5 linked regions of the Homo sapiens genome follow. The protein of the gene in region 1 purifies or fractionates together with the protein of each later gene. This does not show direct contact. Each region holds a gene or a part of one and is shown on either strand. Other genes may lie near its edges. The genes, in order: CINP, POTEE, NSA2, HECTD1 and BLK.

What was found.
Region 2: the proteins of CINP (region 1) and POTEE purify together in Homo sapiens (affinity purification with mass spectrometry; 2 studies listed by BioGRID and IntAct, with this or other methods). This does not show direct contact.
Region 3: the proteins of CINP (region 1) and NSA2 purify together in Homo sapiens (co-immunoprecipitation; one large-scale study listed by IntAct). This does not show direct contact.
Region 4: the proteins of CINP (region 1) and HECTD1 purify together in Homo sapiens (co-immunoprecipitation; 3 studies listed by BioGRID and IntAct, with this or other methods). This does not show direct contact.
Region 5: the proteins of CINP (region 1) and BLK purify together in Homo sapiens (affinity purification with mass spectrometry; one large-scale study listed by BioGRID and IntAct). This does not show direct contact.

Annotation. Positions count from the first base shown.
Region 1 is NC_000014.9:102,350,322-102,352,902, reverse strand, and holds part of CINP (cyclin-dependent kinase 2-interacting protein), read left to right. Parts: intron 1-2,581. UniProt on the Homo sapiens protein: Component of the DNA replication complex, which interacts with two kinases, CDK2 and CDC7, thereby providing a functional and physical link between CDK2 and CDC7 during firing of the origins of replication.
Region 2 is NC_000002.12:131,251,018-131,254,544, forward strand, and holds part of POTEE (POTE ankyrin domain family member E), read left to right. Parts: intron 1-1,508; coding exon 1,509-1,553; intron 1,554-1,900; coding exon 1,901-2,082; intron 2,083-3,527.
Region 3 is NC_000005.10:74,770,244-74,773,770, reverse strand, and holds part of NSA2 (ribosome biogenesis protein NSA2 homolog), read right to left. Parts: intron 3,141-3,527; coding exon 2,961-3,140; intron 1,459-2,960; coding exon of another isoform or gene 1,399-1,458; exon of another isoform or gene 1,278-1,398; intron 1-1,277. UniProt on the Homo sapiens protein: Involved in the biogenesis of the 60S ribosomal subunit. May play a part in the quality control of pre-60S particles.
Region 4 is NC_000014.9:31,201,276-31,204,802, reverse strand, and holds part of HECTD1 (E3 ubiquitin-protein ligase HECTD1), read left to right. Parts: intron 1-3,527. UniProt on the Homo sapiens protein: E3 ubiquitin-protein ligase which accepts ubiquitin from an E2 ubiquitin-conjugating enzyme in the form of a thioester and then directly transfers the ubiquitin to targeted substrates.
Region 5 is NC_000008.11:11,549,887-11,553,386, forward strand, and holds part of BLK (tyrosine-protein kinase Blk), read left to right. Parts: intron 1-272; coding exon 273-376; intron 377-2,599; exon of another isoform or gene 2,600-3,500. UniProt on the Homo sapiens protein: Non-receptor tyrosine kinase involved in B-lymphocyte development, differentiation and signaling. B-cell receptor (BCR) signaling requires a tight regulation of several protein tyrosine kinases and phosphatases, and associated coreceptors.

The sequences.
Region 1 (2,581 bases):
CCGAGGCAGGTGGATCACCTGAGGTCAAGAGTTTGAGACCAGCATGGCCAACATAGTGAAACCCCATCTCTACTAAAAATACAAAAAATTAGCTGGGGGTGGTGGCAGGTGCCTGCAATCCCAGCTACTTGGGAGGCTGAGGCGGGAGAATCACTTTCGGAGGTTGCAGTTAGCCGAGATCAAGCCACTGCACTCCAGTCTGGGCCACAGAGTGAGACTCCGTGTCAAAAAAAAGAAAAAAAGAAAAAGAAAAGTGGTTTGGGAATAAGTTCTCATTCTATGTTCAAAACCAAAAGTTGATTTTATAGGGTATTATTATTTTTCCTATTTTCCTCTATCCGTTATAGAGAATGGTTTCCAGACCTGGTCTGTGTCTTTCATAACTTTGACCTTCTGGGGGTTTCATGCACCGTTCTTCCTAAGCTGGGCTAACATTTCACTGTGGTCTGTGTTTGCTGTGGGAAGAAGCCACCGATGTTGAAATGTAAGGGCCTGCTGTTTATGCACTGTTCATTCAGGGCTGCACGTGCCTATGTGACTTGAATTCTTTATTGATGGCTGAGCTGCAGGATTGAGCATGACTTCTTGCCTGGGGTCAAGGCTCCAGAATTTTCCTTAGTCTCCTGTTATCAGCTTTTCTTAGAATCAGGTGGCACCAGGGAGCTGCTGCAGGACTCACAGGAAAGAGCAGAGGATTGGGTGTTAAAACTTGGTGTCGGCTGGGCGCGGTGGCTCACGCCTGGAATCCCAACACTTTGGGAGGCTGAGGTGGGCGGATCACAAGGTCAGGAGATCGAGACCATCCTGGCTAACACAGTGAAACCCCAGCTCTGCTAAAAGTACCAAAAAAATTAGCCAGGCACAGTGGCGGGCGCCTGTAGTCCCAGCTACTTGGGAGGCTGAGGCAGGAGAATGGCATGAACCCGGGAGGCGGAGGTTGCAGTGAGCGGAGATCGCGCCACTGCACTCCAGCCTGGGTGACAAAGCGAGACTCTGTCTCAAAAAAAACAAAAACAAAAACAAAAACAAAAAAACTTGGTGTCAGAAGGCATGGTATCGAGTTCTGGCCTCATCCTTCCTCAGCTCAACCTTAAGCAATTTCCCAGCTGTGAAACGGAAATGACAAGTCCTGCCTCTTGGGGTTGGGCCAAATAAAATATCAAACCTTAAAAGATTTGGGAAACTACTTAAGTAAAGTCCTTTAAAAATTAACGTTAGCTGAATTTAGTGCTTGCCACTTCCAATGTAATTGGAGGGTGGTTGGAAGGACCAAGTAAAGGAATTAAGATATTTGACAATTTATATATCTTTTCTTATTTCCCCTTTTTCATATTTATGTATGTAAAGTCAACTATACTTAGGAGTTCAAAATTTGGTCTTTATAGACCTATGCTACTTAAATCTGAAATCCTAGTTACTTCACCCATTAATTTTCTTTATCCAACCCTTATATATCTCCAAGTAGGTGCTTCACAAATACTAACTCACTTAATCCTCTTCACCAAGCTGTGAAAGTAAGCCCGCCATTGCCCCTATTCTGTGCTGCCTGGTGTGTGCAGTGGGGTTGGTTTAGTGTCTCCCACAAGTAGCCATACACATCATGCAGTTACAGGGCTTAGGACAGAGCCTGGTCCACACTGAGGGACCGTCAATGGCAGCTTGCCACGTTTCCTTCCTTTCTGCGTGAAGTGTGTAGGGCTCCCTTTCTGTGTTGCCATTTTATAAACAAGGAAGTCAAGGAGGTTTCCGTAAATAAAGGCAGTTAATAAGAGAGAGTCAGGCCTGGTGCGGTGTCTCATGCCTAGAATCCCAGCACTTTGGGCGGCCGAGGTGGGCGGATCACGAGTTCAGGAGATCAAGACCAGCCTGGCCAACATGGTGAAACCCCGTCTCTACTAAAAATACACAAATTAGCTGGGCGTGGTGGCACATGCCTGCAATCCCAGCTACTTGGGAGGCTGAGGCAGGAGAATCGCTTGAACCAGGGAATCAGAGGTTGTAGTGAACCGAGATCTCGCCACTGCACTCCAGCCTGGCACTGCACTCCAGCTTGGCAACAGAGCAAGACTCCGTCTCAAAAAAAAAAAAAAAAAAGAGAGAGAGAGAGAACATCAGAAACGAGCTCATTTGATAGAGAGACAGAGAGCCTCAGAAACGAGCTCATTTGATAAAAGAGAGAGAGAGAGAGCATCAGAAACGAGCTCATTTGATGCCTTTCTCTCTCACTTCTTAAAAGCAGCAAGAGCCAGCCAGGCGCGGTGGCGCATGCCTGTATAATCCCAGCACTTTGGGAGGCTGAGGCGGGAGGATTGCTGGAGCCCAGGAGTTAGAGACCAGCCTGGGCAACATAACGAGACCCTGTCTCCACAAATTAAAAAAAATTAGCTGGGTGTGGTGGTGCACACCTGTGATCCCAGCTACTTGGGAGGCTGAGGTGCCAGCGGTTGAGGCTGCATAAGGCATGATCATGCCACACAGAATGAGACCCTGTCGCAAAAAAAAAAAGAAAAAAAAAAAAAGGCAGCAAGAGCCTGCCTTGGGATTCCTCCAGGTCTTTGGGTCTAAGACATTAATGCTGTTT
Region 2 (3,527 bases), on another chromosome or scaffold:
CACTTTGAGAGGCTGAGGCAGGTGGATCACGAGGTCTGGAGATCGAGACCATCCTGGCTAACATGGTGAAACCCCGTCTCTAGTAAAAATACAAAAACTTAGCTGGGCGTGGTGGTGGGTGCCTGTAGTCCCAGCTACTCGGGAGGCTGAGGCAGGAGAATGGCATGAACCCAGGAGAGGGAGCTTGCAGTGAGCCGACATCCACCACTACACTCCAGCCTGGGTGACAGAGCGAGACTCCATGTGAAAAAAAAAAAAAAAAATTTTAATAGATTCTTAAAATTTATTGTAATAAAATCAGCAACCTTATTAACAGAAGAATCAATAGATTCTAATTTAATATTTGATATTTAACTTCAACATAACCCACTATAAAATTTAAAATACTCTTATTTTAAAATATTCTTATCTGCCTTCTTGATTAGCTTATAGCTAATCTCTCCTTTTGGAATAGAGGCAAAAACAAATTTCAGAACTTTGTTTGTTCTTTTATTTTTACAACACCCTAACATGATAAAGAAAGTAACATCAATGATTGAATCATATTATTAAGCAATAGGAATTATGAACAATGTAACACTGATTCCCTGAGCTGGATTCATGGTTAAAGAGTAATCATGGCCTGTGATTGAAAATCCACAGTTTTATATTGTCAGTCACTGATACCAAGGTTAAGGACATATCCTGCCTTGTGGTCTCTCGTTGACCTCAGTGTTTCTGTTCAGGGAGGGAACCAGGTCATAAAAGCAACCCAACTGCCTATTACAAGAACCATATCTTGCAGAATGGGACCTTTGGTGTTAGTGCACAAACACAATAACATTCTAATTTATTTCAGTTGCAGAAAATCAGTAGAGATTAAAAAATTTTATCTGCTGTCATTAGTACACATTAGAATATATTAGAACTGGACTTACGCAGATAATCTGGATACATAACACTATCATATGACAGTATATAATTTCAATTAAAATGTGAGAATTTGCATTTCTTTCTGTTTGGTGTTGATTTCGGCTCCTAATAGTTTAAAGGGTGCCTACAATCCAGTTAGGAATCTTTTAAAAAAGCACTTCAGTGCACTGTAGGTGCTCACTAGTTAGGGTTTCATGAGGTAAACTCTTTTCAAGTGAGGAAGATTTTGGAACACTACAAATCATCTGCTGATTCATTTTTGGTAGATTTAACACATAACAAATTAAATTTAGTCCAAACAAATAGTGAGAAAGTTAAGTTTGCTGGTTCATGTTTTTCTTCTCCCTTTGTCTAAGGTGAATTATTTTTCACATGTTAGAAGCCAGTGATGTGGCAGTAGCTAAACATAGATTAAAAAGTTAATTCTTAATTTTAATTATTATTTATTTTAACAGTTTAATTTTAATTACTTTCTAATTTTTATTGTCCATACTTGATTACTTCAGAATAAAATTATTTTAAAAACATGCACTCCAAAAGAGGAAATGTCACAGAAATACAGCAAGCAAATTAACCTTCTGTTTTTACATCTGCAGAAAAGATCTCAAGAACCAGAAATAAATAAGGATGGTGATAGAGAGGTATACCTTTATATTCAAACGTTTGTGTTGAATTAGATTTTTACATTATGTTGTTTAACAAAGTGTAGTAAATGTAGGCATACATGATCCTATCATGTAAGTAGCATAAATCATCAGTGAAAAATTAAATAGTTAACTCAGAATTCTGTACATTGAATTTTGAAGAGGTGCAAACCCTAGAGCTATTCTTTCATTATTATGGAATAATCCCGAATGGTGCCATAAAATGCTAGGTAATGCCACTTTAGGAGCTTTAGACCAATTATTTTATCTTTCTTGGTTTTAGTCTGATTATCAATAGATAATGTGCCTAAAGTAGATAATTTCTTATTCTCTGTATTTTCCAGCTAGAAAATTTTATGGCTATCGAAGAAATGAAGAAGCACGGAAGTACTCATGTCGGATTCCCAGAAAACCTGACTAATGGTGCCACTGCTGGCAATGGTGATGATGGATTAATTCCTCCAAGGAAGAGCAGAACACCTGAAAGCCAGCAATTTCCTGACACTGAGAATGAAGAGTATCACAGGTAAGCCTATGGCAACATTGAACAGGAGGTAACTTTGTGCTGCCAAACTAATCCTAATTTGAGCTAATATTCATGATGAACAAATTTTATACTTTTATTAGGATATTGAGCCTTGCCTGTTAATCAGAAAAATGAAAATCAGCAAACAATCAGTTACCGTTTTTTTTCCAGTCATTAATTTATTTGAAAAATAACCAGTATTGGCAAATGTGAGGGAAAAGGCATTTTCTTCTCTTTTCAGTGAACTTTTATTTTAGCTTCGGGGTACGTGTGCAGGTTTATTATATAGGTAAACTGTATCATGGAGGCTTGGGGTACAGATTATTTCACCAGCCACATAGTAAACAAAATACTCGAAAGGTAGTTTTTTGGTCGTCTCCCTCCTGCCATGCTCCTCCCTCAAGTAGGCCCCAGTGTATGTTATTCTCCTCTTTGTGTCCATGAGTTCTCATGTTTAGTTCCCGCTAATGAGTAAGAATATGTGGCATTTGATTTTCTGTTCCTGCATGAGTTTTCTTAGGATAATGGCCTCCAGCTCCATCCGTGTTGCTGCAGGGGAAATGGTTTCATTGAAAAAGACATTTCATATACTGTTGGTAAATACATTTTGAACATTAATTGAGTAGCATATTCACACACACATATATAACAGTAAGCATATATAATACATGTAAAGGATATTTGTATAGATATGTTATATGTATACTTATGTATAAGGACATTTATTATAGTATTATGTAAAAAATTTGGAGCTAGTCTAATTCCTTATCAATAGGAAATAGCTCAATTTCCATATCCCCAAAATAATGTATTATGCAACCATTTTTAAAAAATGAGGTTAGATGTAGGGTATACTGATTATTTCACAATTAAAATGTATTTAAAGCGTTTAGTTTGATGACACATCTTAAGAGTTCTTGTTAAAATTCTTGTAATATCTGCTGTGTTGCAAATGGAAGCTACATGCTACATTGACACTGTACCTTGTTAGCAACAAGATTGCTAGTTACTAAATTTTTGTTGTCAGTGCCTGAGTGCTGAAATATTGGACCCTCAATCTGAATATTGCCAAGCGATTGTACATGGGGATCTATATTTAATATAAACATTTCAGTATATTTGGTAAAACTTTTATTAAAATACATCAAAGAATCTTTGATCTACTAAACCAGGAGTTGGCCAGCTTTTTCTGCAAAGAGCTAGTTAGTAAATATTTTAGGCTTTGTGGACTACATATATTGATTTTCTTGAGACAGGGTCTCACTCTGTTTCCCAGGCTGGAGTGCAGTTGTGTGATCATGGCTGACTGCAGCCTCGACTTTCTGGGCTCTAGTGATCCTCTGACCTCAGTCTCTACTAGCTGAGACCACGGGTGTGCAACATCACACCCAGCTAACTGACACTATGGACTGTAAAGTGAATAAGCATGGCTGTGTTCCAAGATA
Region 3 (3,527 bases), on another chromosome or scaffold:
AAACTATGGTTGAATAATGTCATCTTAAAGAAGCTAACAAAATATGTTTTACAGAGTAAAAAGCTGATGGTTACAGTATAAATATGTGGGGAAAACACCCACACAAATACTTAAGAATTTCTTTTTCTTTTGAGACAGGGTCTTGCCCAGTTGCCCACGCCAGAGTGCAGTGGCGTGATCTTGGCTCACTGCAGCTTGGACTTCTTGGGCTCAAGACATCCTCCCACCTCAGGCTCCTGAGTAGCTGGGACTACAGGCACGCACCACCATGCCTAGCTTATTTTTTTTTTTTTTTTTTTTGGTAGAGATGGGGTTTCGCCATGTTGCCTGCTGGTCTTGGACTCCTGGGCTCTCAACGTATCCACCCACCTCAGCCTCCCAAAGTGCTGGGATTACAGGCCACCACAGCTAGCCTCTGAAAAGTTTTTTTTTTTTTCACCCTGTAATAGCTACCTAGCAACATACCCAGATTTTTACTGTCTAGTCATCTACACTTAGACTTACTAAGGACTTTATATATACCAGGCCACTATGCTAGCTCACAACTGGCTCACTTAAACACAATAACCTCACAACAAACACATCCCCTCTCCTCTGTTTTCAAATGATGTAACAAGGATCAGCAGGTTAAATGACTTGTTTCCAGATTAAATGGTGAGTGGTAAACAGACTCAAACCTTAATATCCTGATTCCAAGTCTTTATATAACTCGGCTACCTTCCATGATGAAAAAAGGAGTGGACTGTCAGCTTTCTTTAGGTTGATGGCAATATGAGACTGGAGGAGACCCAGAGGAGTCTTTGTTACAGAAACTGGTTATGGAGTCACCCAGTCACCTAATAAGGTCTTTTAGGGTGTAGTACTTTAAACGTCACAACATTTTGCAGTCTTCATTTTTGTGTGCATGGGGATGGGGGGAAAAAATCACTAAATCAGTTTCTTAGTAACAGACTCATTAATCAAGCTTGTAAGAAACTGACACCATTCAGGATGCCATCTGATTATAATGACAAATCTGTGAAACTACAGAAAACCTAGAATAGCCTGACTTGTATATTCTCTCCCTGTAGAACTGTTAAGGCTACCAAAATATATTCAGACTATGAATATGAAACCAAAACAAGTCGAGTCCATGATATAATCCGGGGTGGGCAAACATTTTGTGTAAAGAACCCAATAGGTAAACACTTTAGGCTTTGTCAGGCCATATGGCCTCTGTTGCAACTGCTCAATTCTAGGGGTAGGGGTTATGCAATATGTAAATGAACAGGCATGACTGTGTTCCATTAAAATTTTATTTACAGAAACAGGCTATTTGCCAATATTTTAATCTATTAAAAATTACTCACGTTGGCCGGGCACGGTGGCTCATGCCTGTAATTCCAACACTTTGGGAGGCTAAGGCGGGCGGATCACGGAGATCGAGACCATCCTGGCTAACACGGTGAAACCCCGTCTCTACAAAAAAATACAAAAAAATTAGCCGGGCGTGGTAGCGGGCACCTATAGTCCCAGCTACTCGGGAGGCTGAGGCAGGAGAATGGCGAGAACCCGGGAGGCGGAGCTTGCAGTGAGCCGAGATCGTGCCACTGCACTCCCGCCTGGGATACAGAGGGAGACTCCGTCCCAAAAAAAAAAAAAAAAAATTACTCAGGTTGAACACTAGGATTATGGCATGTTGCAACTTTCCTCTCTCTGATACTTTGTTTTTTTGAGGCTGTGTATCTAACTGGGAGAATAGTTCAGTCTCTTTGAAGGGATTTTGCAAAAATATATCTTCAACTATGTTTCTCCCCAGGGGTGGGGAAGTTTGGGGTCACATTACTATTGCTGCCTTCAACAGAAATTAAGCTATATTAAATTATCTTCCTTTTTTCAAAGATTTTCTTTTTCTTTTTTTCTTTTTTTTTTTTTTTTGAGACAGAATCTTGCTCTGTCCCCCAGGCTGGAGTGCAGTGGCATGATCTCCACTCACTGCAAGCTCTGCCTCCCAGATTCACGCCATTCTCCTGCCTCAGCCTCCCAGGCAGCTGGGACTACAGGCGCCCGCCACCATGCCCGGCTAATTTCTTGTATTTTTTTTTTTTAGTAGAGATGGGGTTTCACAGTGTTAGCCAGGATGGTCTTGATCACCTGACCTCGTGATCTGCCTGCATCGGCCTCCCAAAGTGCTGGGATTACAGGCGTGAGCCACCGCGCCCGGCTTTTCAATGATTTTCAAAAGCATTTAGATACTTTCCTTATCAAACTGGAATTGACTCTTATAAAACAGTCCTACTCAAGTTTTCGAACTGCTGTCAAAGACAAGAAGTGTTTTGAGACCTAGACAATATCAGGCATATTGTAGATCACTAGTTTAATGAGGAAAATATGACTGTGGAAAATGAAGATTCTAATATGTCATGTTTAAAAGTCAGAATTCACTGACAATGTCTTATGATACTACTTTTTCAAATCTCTCACGAAGCTGAAAAGATTTTTTTTTTTTTTGAGACGGATTTTTGCTCTTCTTGCCCAGGCTGGAGTGCAATGGCGTGATCTCAGCTCACTGCAACCTCCGCCTCCCAGGTTCAAGCGATTCTCCTGCCTCAGCCTCCCTAGTAGCTGGGATTACAGGCGCCCGCCACCACGCCCAGCTTATTTTTTGTATTTTTTAGTACAGATAGGGTTTCACTACATTGGCCAGGCTGGTCTTGAACTCCTAACTTCAGGTGATCCACCCACCTCAACCTCCCAAAGTGCTGGGATTACAGGTGTGAGCCACCGCACTGGGCTAAAGATTTTTGACTAGTGGAAAAAGTACTAAATAACTTCTGTCAATAAAATAACAAAAATTGCATAAAAATATCTTTCAACCTGTTCCACATCAATTTAAAGAATTTCAGGAAATGATAATGTTCTTTATCCGATTTAATAAAGTCAACTAACATTTCGGTCATTACACTCTTCCAAGGACTTACCATTGGCCTGATGAATCTTTCATATTTAGGTGGTTTTCTTGTAAAGCCATCTCCAACAAAGCACACTTTAGTAACCATTCTCTTCCATGCCTTCTTCTTTCTCTTTCCTGTTCGAATAACTTTTAATACTTCTGTTTCTCCCTGGGCACGTACTTTAGGCAGAGGGACTTCCCATTTTCCCTAAAAATATGCCACAGTTAAAAGTTTATATTGTTATTAAAGGACAATGAGAATAAGTCAAATATGTTTTAGTTGTACAAAGTAATAGATCTATTTTTTTTGCTTGACCATCAACACATTTTTGGCTCAACCGTCTTCTAGAGGTCTGTATTGTCTCATAAGCTGCAAATTAAACAGAACAAGTTTATATATCATGGGTATGTTAAATAAATGGTTGGCTTAAGCTAAAAATCTTAATGCTGTGTTATGGGTGAGAAAATACCACCTGTAATGTGGTGGTTTTTTTTTTTTTTTTTTTTAGATGGAGTCTCGCTCTGTTGCTCAGGCTGGAGTGCAGTGGTACAATCTTGGCTCACTGTGCAGCCTCCGCCTCCTGGGTACAAGCAA
Region 4 (3,527 bases), about 71 Mb from region 1:
AAAAATCCTTACTAATAAAATTTCCAAATTACAATTAGTTAGTGGTCCATTTATTTCCATTAGTTTTTGTCATTGGCAGAATTTTGAGTATGTAAGAATAACTTAGCCCTTAGTTGACACTTGTTTTAGCAGGATTTATAGTAAAGTAGATTTTTTAAAATTTATTTTTATTTTTTATTTTTTTCCTCATCCTGACTCTCAAGTTAAAAATTGCGTTCATAGATTTCATTAGAGGTAACCTGAAAGTTACTTTTGGTATTTTAAAAATCATACTTGTCAGTCAAGTCAATTGTCATTTCGTAGCTTCTGTTTAGTACTAATATGTAGTAGAAGTATTTGTTATGACATTTAAAAAAGTGTTGCCCGATCATTAAAAAGTCAGGAAACAACAGGTGCTGGAGAGGATGTGGAGAAATAGGAACACTTTTACACTGTTGGTGGGACTGACTGTAAACTAGTTCAACCATTGTGGAAAACAGTGTGGCGATTCCTCAAGGATCTAGAACTAGAAATACCGTTTGACCCAGCAATCCCATTACTGGGTATATACCCAAAGGATTATAATAATCATGCTGCTATAAAGACACATGCACACGTATGTTTATTGTGTCACTATTCACAATAGCAAAGACTTGGAACCAACCCAAATGTCGATCGATGATAGACTGGATTAAGCAAACGTGGCACATATACACCATGGAATACTATGCAGCCATAAAAAATGATGAGTTCATGTCCTTTGTAGGGACATGGATGGAGCTGGAAACCATCATTCTCAGCAAGCTATCGCAAGGACAAAACACCAAATGCATGTTCTCACTCATAGGTGGGAATTGAACAATGAGAACACTTGGACACAGGAAGGGGAACATCACACACCGGGGGCTGTTGTGGGGTAGGGGGAGGGGGGAGGGATAGCATTAGGAGATATACCTAATGTAAATGACAAGTTAATGGGTGCAGCACACCAATATGGCACATGTATACATATGTAACAAACCTGCACGTTGAGCACATGTACCCTAAAACTTAAAGTATAATAAAAAAAAAAAGTGTTGCCATGTTAAAACAATTTAAATGAAATTTTTAAAACATAAAATTTATCTCTATGTAAAATCCTTCCATCCTAACATAACAGCTGTTATTTTTTCCATTTTCCTTTCTAGGCTTTATTCATATATAGTATGATGTAATTTTTAAGAGACTGGGGCCTCACTATGTTGCCCAGTCTGGCCTCGAGCTCCTGGGTTCAAGCGATTCTCCTGCCTCGGCCTCTTCAGTAGCTGGGACTATAGGCTGTGCCACCACACCTGGCTTTATAATGTAATTTTAAGGAAATGAACCTAAAGTTAAGTCAGATATGATTTACTATATGAAGATACAAGAGTATTTCAAGTTGAAGGGGTTAGCCGTGTTTGGGGTAGTGTACCAGTAACCTCCAAAAACTAGACATTTGGTTTAATTTTGTGACTGTTTTGTTTTTAAACATTAGTTTGCTTTTCATTCTATAGCCAGATTTTCTTGTTGTTACAAGGGAAAATTGTCCTGGTTCCTTCTTGAAACTAGTGAGGGAGGCATAGTGAGATGGAAAGAATGGGCTGTGGCATCAGAGACTTGGGTTCAGATTCTTGGTCTGTTGTGTTCATTAGCCTCTGAGAGCCTTACTTTCTTCCCCTGTAAAATGGCAGTAGTCTTTTTTTCTTTTCTGTTTTTTCATATGAAGTCTTGCTCTGTTGCCCAGGCTGGAGTGCAGTGGTGCGATCTTGGTTCACTGCAACCTCCGCCTCCCAGGTTCAAGTGATTCTCCTGCTTCAGCCTCCCGAGTAGCTGGGACAACAGGTGCGTGCCACCATACCTGGCTAATTTTTGTATTTTTAGTAGAGATGGGGTTTCACCATGTTGACCAGGATGGTCTCCATCTCTTGATCTCCTGATCCACCTGCCTTAGCCTCCCAAAGTGCTGGGGTTACAGGTGTGAGCCACCATGCCCAGCCAGTAGTCTTTTTTCCAGTGGGCCTTCTTGTGAGGATTAAAGGAGAGAATGTATGTTAAGTGTTTTGAGTAAAGTGGGCTACCCACTGATGCCATCATTAATAAATATCTAATTTTGAATTTTATTTTAGCACTTTATTCCATGAATAAAGTGATTGATTTGGAAAGGTCTTTTAAAATTCTTTTAAACAATCAACTCCCAGCAGGCAAAAAAAGCAAGATGATGTGCATATTTTGAATATTGGTAAAAATCTTTCATACTACCTTGATTTCATAAAGTAGTAGCAAATAGGACTTAGTTCTGTCTAATAAACCAAAACATGCCTGTATGTCCTGATAATATGTTTGCTTAATTAGCTTGTCTTAATAGTTTCACATCTGTTTAGTCAGGAAAGGCAGGTGGTGTGGTAGAAACAGTGGCCTCTGCAATGGGATAGACTTGGGTTCAGATACCTGCCTTTTCCACTGAATAGTTGTGTGATAGCCTTTGAAGTCTGTTTCCTCATCCTTGCAGGATTTTTCTGAAAATAAATGGGATAATAGTCAAGGATTTCTTTTTCCTTTAACTTAGTATTGTACATGGCTCTCCACTTTTTTTTTTTTTTTTTTTTGAGGCAGAGTCTCGCTCTGTCACCCAGGCTGGAGCGCAGTGCTATTTTAGCCATGCCCAGCTAATTTTTGTATTTTTAGTAGAAACGAGGTTTCACTGTGTTAGCCAGGATGGTCTCAATCTCCTGACCTTGTGATCCACCCATCTCAGCCTCCCAAAGTGCCGGAATTACAGGCGTGAGCCACCGCGCCCGGCCGGCTCTCCACTGTTTGTACCCATTTTGACAGTGTCTTTCTGAAGTTCAACGAATATAACTTCTTCTATGATGTGTCAGTGCTTCTTATTAATGCCTGAACTTATCAAGGTAATGCTCCAGAAAGTAAAACACGTTCAAGATTCGTTTTTGCTTTTACCTGATGTATCGAGTTCTAAAATGTAGTAATGTAAACATGGCCGGGTGCGGTGGCTCATGCCTGTAATCCCAGCACTTTGGGAGGCTGAAGTGGGCAGATCACTTGAGGTCAGGAGTTCAAGACCAGCCTGGCAAACATGGTGAAACCCCATCTCAACTAAAAATACAAAATTTAGCTGAGCACTGTGGCATGTGCCTGTAATCCCAGCTACTTGGGAGGCTGAGGCAGGAGAATCTCTTGAACCTGGGAGCCGGAGGTTGCAGTGAACCAAGATTGTGCCATTGCACTCCAGCCTCGGTGACAGAGTGAGACCGTGCCTCCAAAAAAAAAAAAAAAAGTAAGTAATAGTAATATGAGTTATTAGCTAATGAGCATTTTGTATTCACATCAAAATAGGTGATCATCATATGTATTAATGTTATAAATATGTATTATGGGCATTTCTAGATCTTGCTACTAAATCTGAATATAATTTGAAAGTTATGTCCTCTGGAAATTGAGCATCTCAGAAGATGCTTTTAGGTGCTAGTAGGCTTTATTTAAAAAATAATGATGTCACTTAATTTTGAGGG
Region 5 (3,500 bases), on another chromosome or scaffold:
AAGCAAAATTAACAAAGGTCAACCAACTAGTGTTCTTGTTTCGTTCTAGGAAAACAGTGAGTCCAGGGCTGACAGGAAGCGGAACTGGAAGGGCAGCGGGGCAGAGGGCACTGACTCCATCACGGTGTGAGGAGCAGCAGCTCAGGGCCGACTGGGACCAGAAATGCTAGATTTTTATTTCTTGGGGACAGGCAGTGCAGGAGGGAGGCTGTGTGGGAATACTCCGAGGAGCAGGGTCGCTCTGAGTTTCACCTGTTCCTGCCGTTTTCCAGGTGGTTCTTTAGATCACAGGGTCGGAAGGAGGCTGAGAGGCAGCTTCTTGCTCCAATCAACAAGGCCGGCTCCTTTCTTATCAGAGAGAGTGAAACCAACAAAGGTAGGCTTGGTGGCTTTGCCTGCCTTCCTTGCCCTGCTCCTCCCGGGAAGGCGCCTCCAGAGGCCTGGCCCTGGAGTGAGAGGGGAAGGGGTGACTGCCAGGAGAACCAGCAGCTTCCGGGCTTGTGTCCCTCCCAATTCAGGCCCTGCCCGGGAGTTGACATGGGGGCTGTCCACACAGTCCTCCCTGTCCCGGCTGGAAACCACCTGGGCACAGGAAGCCGGGTGGACAGGGGTGGTCCCACGCCAGACTGGCCCTGCTGCCCAGTCAGCAGGAACACCGAGGCCAGTGGGGGCCAGGGAAGGGGGAACCCTGAGCCCTTAACCACCAGCCTCTTTGGAATCAAGGATTAGGGGGAGCTCAAAGAATCCTTCAAGATCATCTCAGCCAGAGGCTGCAGGTAGCATATGTTAGGAAGTGGCCTGTGCCGTGATGTAAGAGAAGAGGGTGGTAATTGAGGGGAGCCCATGCCAGTCTAGACACTCATGAGTTCAAATCCACTGACTGAGCAAAACAGCTGCCATCACCCTCAGGGGTTTTCTCTCTTTCTCTGTCATTTGGCTTTCTTTCCTTCTTAATTTTTTTGGTGTAAAATATAAAACACATATAAAGCTTGCATGAAGTATGAATGTGTAATTCTAAATCATATAGGGTAATAATAAACAAATCCCTGTGTAATGACAGCCAAGAGAAAGAGCATCCCAGACCACCAGGAGCCCCCTCACTCCCCCACTTGGGCTCCTTCCTGATTCAACCCCCACCCTCAAGAGCTACCTGCTGTCCTGACTTGGATGGAAATCCTTCCTTGCTCTTCTCTGTGGTTTCGCCACCATGTCTTGTCTGTTTTTTCAGCTTGATGTAGATAGAATCACTGTTTTTGTTTCTGTGTGTCTTGCTTCTGTCACTCAGCAGTGTTTGTGGGATTCTATGTTAGTTTCCTGGGCTGCCGTAACAAAGTGGCACAGACTGGGTGGCTTCCACCACAGAAGCTTATTATCTCACAGCTCTGGAGGCTGGAAGTCCACGACCAAAGTGTCAGCAGCGTTGGCTCCTCCCGGGAGCTCTCTCCTTGGCTTGCCGATGGCCGTCTTCTCTGTGTCCTCACGTGGCCGTCCCTCCATGCATGTCTGTGTCCTAATCTCTTCTTGTAAGGACACCTGTCAATTTGGATTAGGGCCCACCCATATGACCTCATTTTAACTTAATCACCCCTTTAAAGGCTCTGTCTCCACATATAGCCACATTCTCAGGACCGAGGGTTAGGACTTTAACATATGAATTGGGAGCGCACATGATTCAACCAGTAACAGATTCATTCATGTGGTTGAGGATGGTGAGCCTGTTCATGTTCATTGCTATACAGAATCCCGGGTGTGACCATTCCAGAGTCAAGTTAGCCATTCTCATGTTGTGGGCATTGAGTTGTTTCCAGTTTGGGGCTGTTAATGCATGTGTTGCACCGAACCCTATTATGGTCCCTGGTGCTCACTGGCCACTAGCTTTTCGTCTGTAAGATACTAATCCACTTGACAGATGAGGAAAGGGAGTCCCTGAAACAGGAAGTGACTTGCTGGGGGCCAACAGTAAGCATCAGAGCCCAAAGCACCAGTGACCACATCATCTAAGAGGCTGAGAGGCTTCCCAAGCTCTACAACGTGGCAAGCTAGGGTGACCCAGGGGCTTCCCAGGCAGTATGAAGAATGCTTTGCTCATCAGGAAGCTGTCCACAGGGACCAGGTACAGCCTTGTAGCCAATTTTAACTGGAGAGGAGATGGTGACAGTGACATCAGAGGAGGAAAGGGAGAGAGAGTGTCTGGAATATGAGTCTGGTTCCCTGTGGTTGGGGCGATGAGAATGGACAGAGTTGTCACCTGGTGGGAGCACCCTTGGGCTGTCCATTGGTTCCATCTGTGGCTCAAGAACAGCAGCCAGAGTGGAAACCCAGAGTATGAAAAGCTGTCATAGCACCCTGTGATTCTCTGGGGACATCATGAGGCCTTGGTGCCCCACAAAGGGGCAGGACCAGGTTGGGGAGCAGGAAGGGTGCATTGGAAAGCTGGGGTGCTCTGTGCAGGATTTCTTGGAATATGCCAATGAATGCATATACATACATATACATACACATAGATATATGCATTTTATATTTATATTCATATTGGATATTGTCACTATTTCATTTTTGTGGCAGAGCACCTCTGTACAAGAAATAATTTGGGAATCACTGGAGATGACATAAGTGTTTTATTGTTGTTCCAGGACATTTCAAACATACACAGAAGTAGAGAAAATAGTTTAGTGGAACCCCTGGTACCCAACAGCCAGCTTCAACAATTATCAACTGAGCCAGTCTTGTTTCATCTGTATCTCCCGCTCCACCCCTGTTCTTTCGAAGTAAATCCCAAACATCATGTCATGTCACCCTGGAAATGATATTTCAACCATTGCCTATTGCTAAGGTGAAAGCCTCCCCACCCCCTGCCCAATCTGGTGTGGAGGAAGAAGGGGTTCTCTATGAGTCTGGCATCTTTTCCTGTCCATGTCCACCCCAGGAAGCCAGTCCAAGCTGGGAATAGGCCATATGGGACCAGGGCTGCAGGACTGTTCAACCATCATCACCACCACACGCACATACACATGCACACATGAACACACATGCACATATGCACAAATGCACACATATACACACATGTGCATACACAGGCATGTGTGCACACATACACATGCAAACACATACACATGTCCACGCATGCACATATACACACACACGCACACATATACATGTGCACATATGCACAGATGCAATGAACACGTGTGCAACACATGTACACACCTTACACGTACATATGCACACACACACACAACTCCAAAGCAAGACCCCTCTGCTTCTCCGAGCCACAGCAGTGAATGCAAGACAGGGATGGAAGCAGGGGAGTGAGTTCTACCCTTCGTGGCCTCCGGGGTGTCCTTGAGCCTCTCAAGCCTCAGTTTACTGGTGTCTATGTGAGGATAGACTAGTTTCACAGCTCAAAGGCAGGCGGTCCTTCAGTGCTGAGAAATCTTCATCTCAGAGCCAGGCCCTGCCTGCCCAGGGCAGTCCAGACATACCACAGAGGCAGGGGATCC